Regions from separate parts of the Homo sapiens genome. Here region 2 is linked to region 1. The links come from fine-mapping of genetic effects on gene expression. A gene starts in region 1. The other region holds a variant in brackets. All regions are shown on one strand. Distances are between the middles of the regions. Region 1 holds the start of LINC00671 (long intergenic non-protein coding RNA 671). Region 2 overlaps AOC3 (amine oxidase copper containing 3).

What was found. PIP is the estimated chance that this variant, and not a neighbour inherited with it, causes the effect. A credible set is the group of variants that fine-mapping cannot tell apart.
Region 2: its variant is the best candidate, but not a certain one, in a credible set for the expression of LINC00671 in gastroesophageal junction (GTEx, PIP 0.69).

Annotation. Positions count from the first base shown.
Region 1 is chr17:42,896,386-42,901,758 of GRCh38, forward strand. LINC00671 (long intergenic non-protein coding RNA 671) reads right to left here and starts at 2,349. Exons shown (of 6, transcript NR_027254.1): 1 at 2,248-2,349. G6PC1 (glucose-6-phosphatase catalytic subunit 1) reads left to right here and starts at 4,414. Exons shown (of 5, transcript NM_000151.4): 1 at 4,414-4,721. The coding sequence starts at 4,492.
Region 2 is chr17:42,852,450-42,857,801 of GRCh38, forward strand. AOC3 (amine oxidase copper containing 3) reads left to right here. Exons shown (of 4, transcript NM_003734.4): 1 at 1-494; 2 at 1,999-2,284; 3 at 2,995-3,124; 4 at 3,826-5,352. The coding sequence ends at 4,101. Among named protein-coding and RNA genes, the nearest start is that of AOC3, 3.9 kb to the left of the region's middle. The variant G/A (reference allele first, on the strand shown) is at 2,294.

The sequences.
Region 1 (5,373 bases):
TTGTAATCTCAGCACTTTGGGAGGCCGAGGCGGGTGGATCACCTGAGGTCAGGAGTTCGAGACCAGCCTGGCCCAACATGGCAAAACCCCATCTCTACTAAAAATACAAAAATTAATCGGGCCTGGTGGCACATGCCTGTAATCCCAGCTACTTGGGGGGCTGAGGCACAGGAATCGGTGGATCTCAGGAGGCAGAGGTTGCAGTGAGCCAAGATCATCGCATTGCACTCCAGCCTGGGCAACAAGAGTGATACTCCGTCTCAAAAAAAAAAAAAAAAAAGGACTGACACAAAAGAACAATTGTTCTTCTCCTTCCTTTATCCCATTATCCATCACAGAAAAGAAGACCAAAAATGTAACCATAAAAAAGTCTCAACAGACCCTTTTTCAAGACAATGACTGTCTCTGAGGACCATTTAAAATCCAGGGAGAACTATTTACAAGTTAATTTCTGTTCCTCGATCCAATCATTCTCCCTCTGCCCTTCGACAGAATTCCTCTTCTCCTCCTTCCCATAACCTGTTTTTAACAGGATCCAAGCCACCCATTCTTTCTGCAACCTCAAGATGGTGGATGAGCTTCCATACCTCACTGGGAAGTTGGATCTTCATTCTTAAGCCTCCCATGTATACATGTTAAATACATTTGTAATCTTTTTCTCATATTAATTAATCTGCCTTATGTCAGTGACTTTTCAGCGAACTTGTAGGTAGTCACTCACATAAGGATCCTCCAGTTTACATAGTTTTGTAAATGTCAGGTCACCCTGTCCCACTAGACCACCAAGGTCCTGGAGGACACCTGGGATTTAACTTTTTTTTTTTTTTTTTTTTTTGAGACAGTCTCGCTCTGTCACTGAGGCTGGAGTGCAGTGTCAGGATCTCCACTCACTGCAACCTCCACCTCCCGGGTTTAAGTGATTCTCCTGCTTCAGCCTCCCGAGTAGCTGAGACTACAGGTGCCCCTCATCATACCCGGCTAATTTTTATATTTTTAGTAGAGATGGGGTTTTGCTATATTGGCCAGGCTGGTCTTAAACTCCTGACCTCAGGTGATCCACCCTCCTCAGCCTCCCAAAGTGCTGGGATTACAGGCGTGAGCCACCATGCCCAGCCTGGCTTTTAACTTTTAATTCCTCAGAGAGCCAGGCATGGTGCTTTGCTCAGGAAATGTTGGTTGAATTAAACCGGAGCACTTCTTGAAAAGGGAAAATAACAAAGAGTTAGAAGGAGATGGCGGGAACCCCTCTCTGGAGATAGTTCTTTAAATTAGTGGATTCTGCAGGGCACTGTTGCTCATACCTGTAATCCCAGCATTTTGGGAGGCCAAGGCAGGAGGACCACCTGATGCCGGGAGTTTGAGACCAGTCTGGGCAATGTAGAGAGACCCCCATCTCCACAAAAAATAAAAAGTTAGCTGGGTTTGGTGGTGTGCGCCTGTAGGCCCAGCTACCCAGAGACTGATGCAAAACGATCCCTTAAGCCCAGGAGACTGAGGCTGCAGTGAGCTGTGATGGTGCCACCGCACTCCAGCCTGGGTAACAGAGTGAGACCCCGTCTCAAATAAACAGATAAATGAGTGGATTCTCAGCAAAACTTCTAGCCACTCGCCTCATATATCCACAAGACCTTTGAGAATCCACGGTGTCTCGATGCAGTCAGCTTTCTAACAAGCTGGGGCCTCACCTGTTTTCCCACGGATAAAAACGTGCTGGAGGAAGCAGAAAGGGGCTGGCAGGTGGAAAGATGAGGACCAGCTCATCGTCTCATGACTATGAGGTTGCTCTGATCCAGAGGGTCCCCCTGCCTGGTGGCCCACCGCCAGGAAGACTCCCACTGTCCCTGGATGCCCAGAGTGGGATGTCAACTCCATCACTTATCAACTCCTTATCCATAGGGGTATTCTTCCTGAGGCGTCTCAGAAAACAGGGCCCTCCCCATATGCTGACCACATAATAGAACCCCTCCCAACTCAGAGACCCTGGCTGCTAGCTGCCCTGGCATGACCCAGACAGTGGCCTTTGTATATGTTTTTAGACTCACCTTGACTCACCTCTGACCATAGAAACTCTCATCCCAGAGGTCACTGCAATAGTTACTCCACAACAGAGGCTTATCTGGGTAGAGGGAGGCTCCCTACCTATGGCCCAGCAGCCCTGACAGTGCAGATCACATATACCCCACGCCCCAGCACTGCCTGCCACGCATGGGCTTACTTTACACCCACCCACAGTCACCAACACATTACCTGCTCTCCAAGGTTAGGCGTGGCAGGAGAAGTTTGCTTGGACCAGCAGAAACCATGCAGTCAAGGACAACTGGAGTCAGCATGGGCTGGGTGCGAGCCCTTGGTGGGGTGGGGAGGAGACTCCAGGTCATACCTCCTGGAGGATGTTTTAATCATTTCCAGCATGGAATGCTGTCAACTTTTGCCACAGATTCATTAGCTCTGAGTTTCTTTTTTCTGTCCCCAGCTACCCCTTACATGTCAATATGGACTTAATGATGGGAAATTCAGGCAAGTTTTTAAACATTTTATTCCCCCTGGCTCTTATCCTCAAAAAATGCATGAATTTGGAGGCAGTGGCTCATGCCTGTAATCCCAATGCTTTGCTAGGTTGAGGCGGGAGGATCACTTGAAGCCAGGAATTTGAGACCAGCCTGGGCCGCATAGTGAGACCCCGTTTCTACAAAAATAAATAAATAAATAATAAATAATAGTGATATGAAGCATGATTAAATAGCCCTATTTTTTAAAATGCATGAGTTCGTTACCTGATTCATTCCCTGGTTCCTTTCACAGTCCTCCGTGACCCAAGTGTTAGGGTTTTGGTCTCTCTACTATTTGTAGGCTGATATATAGTATACACACACACACACACACACATATACACACACACAGTGTATCTTGAGCTTTCTTTTGTATATCTACACACATATGTATAAGAAAGCTCAAGATATAGAAGCCCTTTTTCAAAAATAACTGAAAGTTTCAAACTCTTTAAGTCTCCAGTTACCATTTTGCTGGTATTCTTATTTGGAACCATACATTCATCATATTGTTGCACAGTAAGACTATACATTCATTATTTTGCTTAAACGTATGAGTTAAAACACTTGGCCAGGCATGGTGGTTCACACCTGTAATCCCAGAGCTTTGGGAAGCCAAGACTGGCAGATCTCTTGAGCTCAGGAATTCAAGACCAGCCTGGGCAACATGGAAAAACCCCATCTCTACAAAAGATAGAAAAATTAGCCAGGCATGGTGGCGTGTGCCTGTGGTCCCAGCTACTCAGGAGGCTGAGGTGGGAGGATCACATTAGCCCAGGAGGTTGAGGCTGCAGTGAGCCGTGATTATGCCACTGCACTCCAGCCTGGGAGACAGAGTGAGACCCTGTTTCAAAAAAAAGAGAGAGAAAATTTAAAAAAGAAAACAACACCAAGGGCTGTAACTTTAAGGTCATTAAATGAATTAATCACTGCATTCAAAAACGATTACTTTCTGGCCCTAAGAGACATGAGGCCAATACCAGGAAGGGGGTTGATCTCCCAAACCAGAGGCAGACCCTAGACTCTAATACAGTTAAGGAAAGACCAGCAAGATGATAGTCCCCAATACAATAGAAGTTACTATATTTTATTTGTTGTTTTTCTTTTGTTTTGTTTTGTTTTGTTTTGTTTTGTTTTAGAGACTGGGGTCTTGCTCGATTGCCCAGGCTGTAGTGCAGCGGTGGGACAATAGCTCACTGCAGACTCCAACTCCTGGGCTCAAGCAATCCTCCTGCCTCAGCCTCCTGAATAGCTGGGACTACAAGGGTACACCATCACACACACCAAAACAATTTTTTAAATTTTTGTGTAGAAACGAGGGTCTTGCTTTGTTGCCCAGGCTGGTCTCCAACTCCTGGCTTCAAGGGATCCTCCCACCTCAGCCTCCCAAATTGCTGGGATTACAGGTGTGAGCCACCACAACCAGCCAGAACTTTACTAATTTTAAAATTAAGAACTTAAAACTTGAATAGCTAGAGCACCAAGATTTTTCTTTGTCCCCAAATAAGTGCAGTTGCAGGCATAGAAAATCTGACATCTTTGCAAGAATCATCGTGGATGTAGACTCTGTCCTGTGTCTCTGGCCTGGTTTCGGGGACCAGGAGGGCAGACCCTTGCACTGCCAAGAAGCATGCCAAAGTTAATCATTGGCCCTGCTGAGTACATGGCCGATCAGGCTGTTTTTGTGTGCCTGTTTTTCTATTTTACGTAAATCACCCTGAACATGTTTGCATCAACCTACTGGTGATGCACCTTTGATCAATACATTTTAGACAAACGTGGTTTTTGAGTCCAAAGATCAGGGCTGGGTTGACCTGAATACTGGATACAGGGCATATAAAACAGGGGCAAGGCACAGACTCATAGCAGAGCAATCACCACCAAGCCTGGAATAACTGCAAGGGCTCTGCTGACATCTTCCTGAGGTGCCAAGGAAATGAGGATGGAGGAAGGAATGAATGTTCTCCATGACTTTGGGATCCAGTCAACACATTACCTCCAGGTGAATTACCAAGACTCCCAGGACTGGTTCATCTTGGTGTCCGTGATCGCAGACCTCAGGAATGCCTTCTACGTCCTCTTCCCCATCTGGTTCCATCTTCAGGAAGCTGTGGGCATTAAACTCCTTTGGGTAGCTGTGATTGGAGACTGGCTCAACCTCGTCTTTAAGTGGTAAGAACCATATAGAGAGGAGATCAGCAAGAAAAGAGGCTGGCATTCGCTCTCGCAATGTCTGTCCATCAGAAGTTGCTTTCCCCAGGCTATTCAGGAAGCCACGGGCTACTCATGCTTCCAACCCCTCTCTCTGACTTTGGATCATCTACATAAAGGGGGAAGACAGAAAAAATCCTACCAGTGAGTTGAAAATACAGGAAAGCCTATTTCATATGGGTTAAAGGGTAGGACAGTTGAATTTCGTGAAAAGTCTGAGTTATATAGGCTTTGAGCAAAGAGTTTTATTAGTATGAAGCAGAAGAGGTAACATAAAGAAAGATGTATGGGGCCAGGCATGGTGGCTCACACCTGTAATCCCAGCACTTTGGGAGGCCGAGGTGGGCGAATCACTCCTGGGTGAACTCAGGAGTTCAAGACCAGCCTGGGCAACATGGCGAAACTCCATCTCTACAAAAACATTACGAAAATTAGCTGGGCGTGTTGGTGCTGTAGTCCCAGCTACTCAGGAGGCTGAGGTGAGAGGCGGAGGAGGTTGCAGTGAGTCAAGATCATGCCACTGCACTCCAGCCTGGGCAACAGAGTAAGACCCTGTCTCAAAAAAAAAAAAAAGATAGATGATGTATGCTGTATGAAAAAAGGAAACACACAG
Region 2 (5,352 bases), 44 kb before region 1:
GGCCATCTATGGTGGAAATTCCCCAGCAGCAATGACGACCCGCTATGTGGATGGAGGCTTTGGCATGGGCAAGTACACCACGCCCCTGACCCGTGGGGTGGACTGCCCCTACTTGGCCACCTACGTGGACTGGCACTTCCTTTTGGAGTCCCAGGCCCCCAAGACAATACGTGATGCCTTTTGTGTGTTTGAACAGAACCAGGGCCTCCCCCTGCGGCGACACCACTCAGATCTCTACTCGCACTACTTTGGGGGTCTTGCGGAAACGGTGCTGGTCGTCAGATCTATGTCCACCTTGCTCAACTATGACTATGTGTGGGATACGGTCTTCCACCCCAGTGGGGCCATAGAAATACGATTCTATGCCACGGGCTACATCAGCTCGGCATTCCTCTTTGGTGCTACTGGGAAGTACGGGAACCAAGTGTCAGAGCACACCCTGGGCACGGTCCACACCCACAGCGCCCACTTCAAGGTGGATCTGGATGTAGCAGGTAAGACATTTTGGTGGGGAGAAGGCTTCTGGAAGAAGGGCTGAAAAGTTGTTTCCATTAGCTTTGGGTTTTATGTAGATTATCCCAGAAAGGAAGACGTGGATTTTTGTACTTCCCCTTTTGCTGGATGGGAGAGAGTTGGCTGCTGAGTTTTATTTGGATCTTAGCTCACTGGCTGGGTGCAAAGCTGCAGCCTTCCTCTACGTGACCTCATCCAAAGATCTTGGGAAATGGCCGAGCTCAGGGAGGAGGCAGGATTTGGGCTAACAGTGTCCCCATTGCCCTCTTCTCTCCCTTGTACTTATATGGGCTCTGCTGCTGGGAGCAGCCTTCTGTTTGTCAGCTCAGTTCTGTGTCTGGCCTGTGGTGGTGGTGTTTTGGAGGATCTCTTTGCATTCTACCACGTCCCTGGCATGTGCAGGTCAGTCATTCCAGGTTGTACATTTCCTTTGGAGATGGACCCTCCTCCCTGATTTTCCTTCTTTCTCTGGGCACAATTCACCTAAGTGTGAGGGGTCACATGGATCCCGTGGAGCATTCTGGATAGATCCTGGAGTCTGGTCACAGAGAGAGCCAAGGCTACATGATGGCTTGGAGTCTTCATCTTTGTCTTTTCACTGTCTTTCCCCACATTGAGTCAGTCACCAGGTGTTTTTTTTTGGTTTTGTTTTATTTTGTTTTGTTTCTGTTTTGCACCTGCAGTATCTCGGCAGGTCAGACTGTCATGCCGTGCAGGTGCCAGCCCTCTCTCTGCTGTTTTTGCTCTTGTTGCTCTCAGAGCCAAGAGCCACTCTGCACCCAGAGGGCCTCCCATCCACACCAGCCTGCCCTTTACTCAGCTCTCACTTTCGTCATCACCTGTGGGATCCTGTCTGCAGAACCCCCTCAAAACTCTTTCCTTCACGGTGCAGCTCCACCCTGCCTTGCTGTGCTCTGCACAGCTACACCCAAATTCTCCATGTCCCTGGACACGCACTTCACATGTTACAGTCAGGCATCCTCCTGTTTGCTTATGCTTTGTCTCTGCTTAGAATGTCCTTCCATATCATCTTTTCTGGTAATGTCCTTTAAGGCCAGGCTGAAAAGTTGCCCGGAAGGGCCCCCTTTTCCTGCCTGCAACTGTATTCCTGTGATCCGGAAGTTGCCTAGGCCATGCTCCTCTCACAGGACAGGCCAGTCAGTGGTTTGTCTGTCTGCGTGGAAAGCAAGAGGGTAAGGATGATCATTCATCTCTATCCCCAGGGACGAGTACAGTCCTCTCTGCTAATGAATGTTGAAAGAATGAATGAGTGAAATGGAATGAACTCCCTGATGAAGTATTTTAATTTACAGGTCAACAGCTTTGGCTAAAGGATTGGAGGTATCCTGGGGAGAGGGAAGAGAAGGAGGGGCACACTCAGTTCTGGGCTGCTCTTTGGCCCCCACTCTGAAGCCAGATGGGGGCAGAGTCCAGAGGGGCCAGGGCAGTTGCCTGACAGGCCCTCCCCTATCCCACCCTGAGCAGGACTGGAGAACTGGGTCTGGGCCGAGGATATGGTCTTTGTCCCCATGGCTGTGCCCTGGAGCCCTGAGCACCAGCTGCAGAGGCTGCAGGTGACCCGGAAGCTGCTGGAGATGGAGGAGCAGGCCGCCTTCCTCGTGGGAAGCGCCACCCCTCGCTACCTGTACCTGGCCAGCAACCACAGCAACAAGTGGGGTCACCCCCGGGGCTACCGCATCCAGATGCTCAGCTTTGCTGGAGAGCCGCTGCCCCAAAACAGCTCCATGGCGAGAGGCTTCAGCTGGGAGAGGTGAGTGGC[G/A]GGCAGTCAGAGAGGAGGGGGGCAGTGAGAGTGGGAAAGGAGTGTTGGCGGACACTCAGCTCACACTGTAGGTGAGGGGAGAGCTCTCTCAGGAAGGCTTTTCTTTTCCTTTTTTTTTTTTTTTTTTGAGATGGAGTTTTGCTCTGTTGCCCAGGCCGGAGTGCAGTGGAGCAATCTCACTGCATCCTCCGCCTCCCAGTTTCAAGCGATTCTCCTGCCTCAGCCTCCCCAGTAGCTGGGATTACAGGTGCACGCCACCACACATGGCTAATTTTTGTATTTTTAGTAGAGATAGGGTTTCACCATGTTGGCCAGGCTGGTCTCGAACTCCTGACCTCATGATCCACCCTCCTTGGTCTCCCAAAGTGCTGTGATTACAGGCATGAGCCACAATGCCTGGCCAAAGGTTTTTCTAGTTATCCAAAGAAACCATGATGGGCACATTTTCCCCTTGGAGGCTAAAGCCCAGGAGTGAGAACTCTCTTCTGTTTTGGATGGGAGAGGGGTTGTACTGTTAAATGGCTGGGGATAAACAGGAGGACTTGACCCCCCTTAGGGTGACGTCGGGGATTCTGTAGCGCCGAGTCAGTTGTGTGACTGCAATTGGGGAAGCTGAGCTCTGAGCACTCAGTTCCCTTTCATCATAATCAGGCAGCAGGATGGGGTCAATGGCCATGGAGGCCTGACCAGTGCCTCCCTAGGTACCAGCTGGCTGTGACCCAGCGGAAGGAGGAGGAGCCCAGTAGCAGCAGCGTTTTCAATCAGAATGACCCTTGGGCCCCCACTGTGGATTTCAGTGACTTCATCAACAATGAGACCATTGCTGGAAAGGTCAGCTGGCCGGGGTAGAGGGTACAGGATGAGCCTTGCTTTCTCTTGGGAGGGTCCCTGAAAACCACCTGCACTTCTCAGGGGTGGTGCTGATTCCTGCCTTCTGCACTTCAGTATATCTGATCATTATCCTTTGAGGGAACCTTCCTGAGCTGGGTGTCCATATGCAGACACTGAGTGAGGCCCTGGGCCTGTCCTTGAGATCTTAGAGCCCTCTTAGTTCCAGTTTCATGGACTGAGTCCTTTCCAGGCTCCAGGACTCAGGAGGGATGGAAGTTACCAGGGAAAATGACATCTCCTGTATCTGAAGCTTCTCCCATTCCTGACTTGATGAATTTCACAATGTTGGCCTGGTTCTGCTTCCCAAGCGCTGGTTCTTTTTCCTCCACCCTTCTTTCCTCAGTTGTGGGGAACTCTTGGAGAGTTAGGGGAAGAGGAGCTGAAGTAGCCTGTGGGTGTCACCCTCTGGGGGTAGATAGGCAATGGGCGATATGATGGGAAATGTCAGAGATGGAGGCTGCAAGCCAGGGACAGGGAAGCAGGTGTTCCTAATATGAAATGGACTACTTATGCTTTGACTCCTACCCAGCAGGAAAAAATGTTTAAAGACTCATGATCCTTGGGCTGGTGAGCTGAATCCCTACCAGGGCATGTCCTCAGCAAAGCCAGACCTCGTGATCCTCTTTCTTCTCCCCTGCTAGGATTTGGTGGCCTGGGTGACAGCTGGTTTTCTGCATATCCCACATGCAGAGGACATTCCTAACACAGTGACTGTGGGGAACGGCGTGGGCTTCTTCCTCCGACCCTATAACTTCTTTGACGAAGACCCCTCCTTCTACTCTGCCGACTCCATCTACTTCCGAGGGGACCAGGATGCTGGGGCCTGCGAGGTCAACCCCCTAGCTTGCCTGCCCCAGGCTGCTGCCTGTGCCCCCGACCTCCCTGCCTTCTCCCACGGGGGCTTCTCTCACAACTAGGCGGTCCTGGGATGGGGCATGTGGCCAAGGGCTCCAGGGCCAGGGTGTGAGGGATGGGGAGCAGCTGGGCACTGGGCCGGCAGCCTGGTTCCCTCTTTCCTGTGCCAGGACTCTCTTTCTTCCACTACCCTCCCTCGCATCCGCCTCTGAGCCAGGAGCCTCCTGACCCTGTGATGCCTGACACAGGGGACACTGAACCTTGTTGATGCCAGCTGTACTGAGTTCTCATCCACAGAGGCCAGGCATGGCCCAGCCTGGAGCCGTGGCCGAGGGCTTCCCTAGATGGTTCCCTTTGTTGCTGTCTGGCTTTCCCGAATCTTTTTAGGCCACCTCCAAGGACTCTAAAAGGGGGCTATTCCCTGGAGACCCCAGAGTAGGGTTGCCAGTCCTGCAAGTCCATAGCTGAGCTGGAAAGGATGCTTCTGCTCACATTCCCTCTCATCCAGGTCCTTTCCTTCTCGTCTTCCTCTCTCTCACCTACTTCCTCCTCCTCCTCCTGTTCCTGCCTTCTCTTCTATCCTGCAATTTCTCCCGAATCCTGAGGGGATATCCCTATGTCCCAGCCCCTGGTACTCCCCCAGCCCTCAGTTTTCAGTCAAGTTCCGTCTCCTCTCCAGCCCTATGGAAGTCTCAAGGTCACGGGACCCCTAATCAGAGTGGCCAATCCCTGTGTGTCGTTCCCTTGTGTCTGTTGCTTATTGGGAGTAGGAGTTGCTCCTACCCCTGTCCTGGGGCTGGGTGTGTTTCAGGACAGCTGCTTCTGTGCATTTGTGTCTGCCTGCCTCATGCTCTCTATAGAGGAGGATGGTCATCGTGACAGCAGCAGCTCAAGTTAGCATTTCAAGTGATTTGGGGGTGCAATGATAATGAAGAATGGCCATTTTGTACCAGGGCTCTGTATTCTGCAACAGCCTGTTTGGGAGGCTGGAGTGGAAACAAAGGGTGGGCATCAAAGATGAGAAGCCAAAGCCCCTACAACTCCAGCCACCCAGCCAGGAGGGGCTGTCCAATCACATTCAGGCATGCGAATGAGCTGGGCCCTGGGTGAGGTGGGGGTCTGGCCTAGTGGGGAGGGGCCTGGCCTGGGTGGGGCAGGGCCTGGCCTGGTCCAGGCTTGGGCTCCATTCCCATCACTGCTGTCCCTCCTGAGGTCTGGATTGGGGATGGGGACAAAGAAATAGCAAGAGATGAGAAACAACAGAAACTTTTTTCTCTAAAGGACTGGTTAAATCAATTCTGATACAGCCTTAC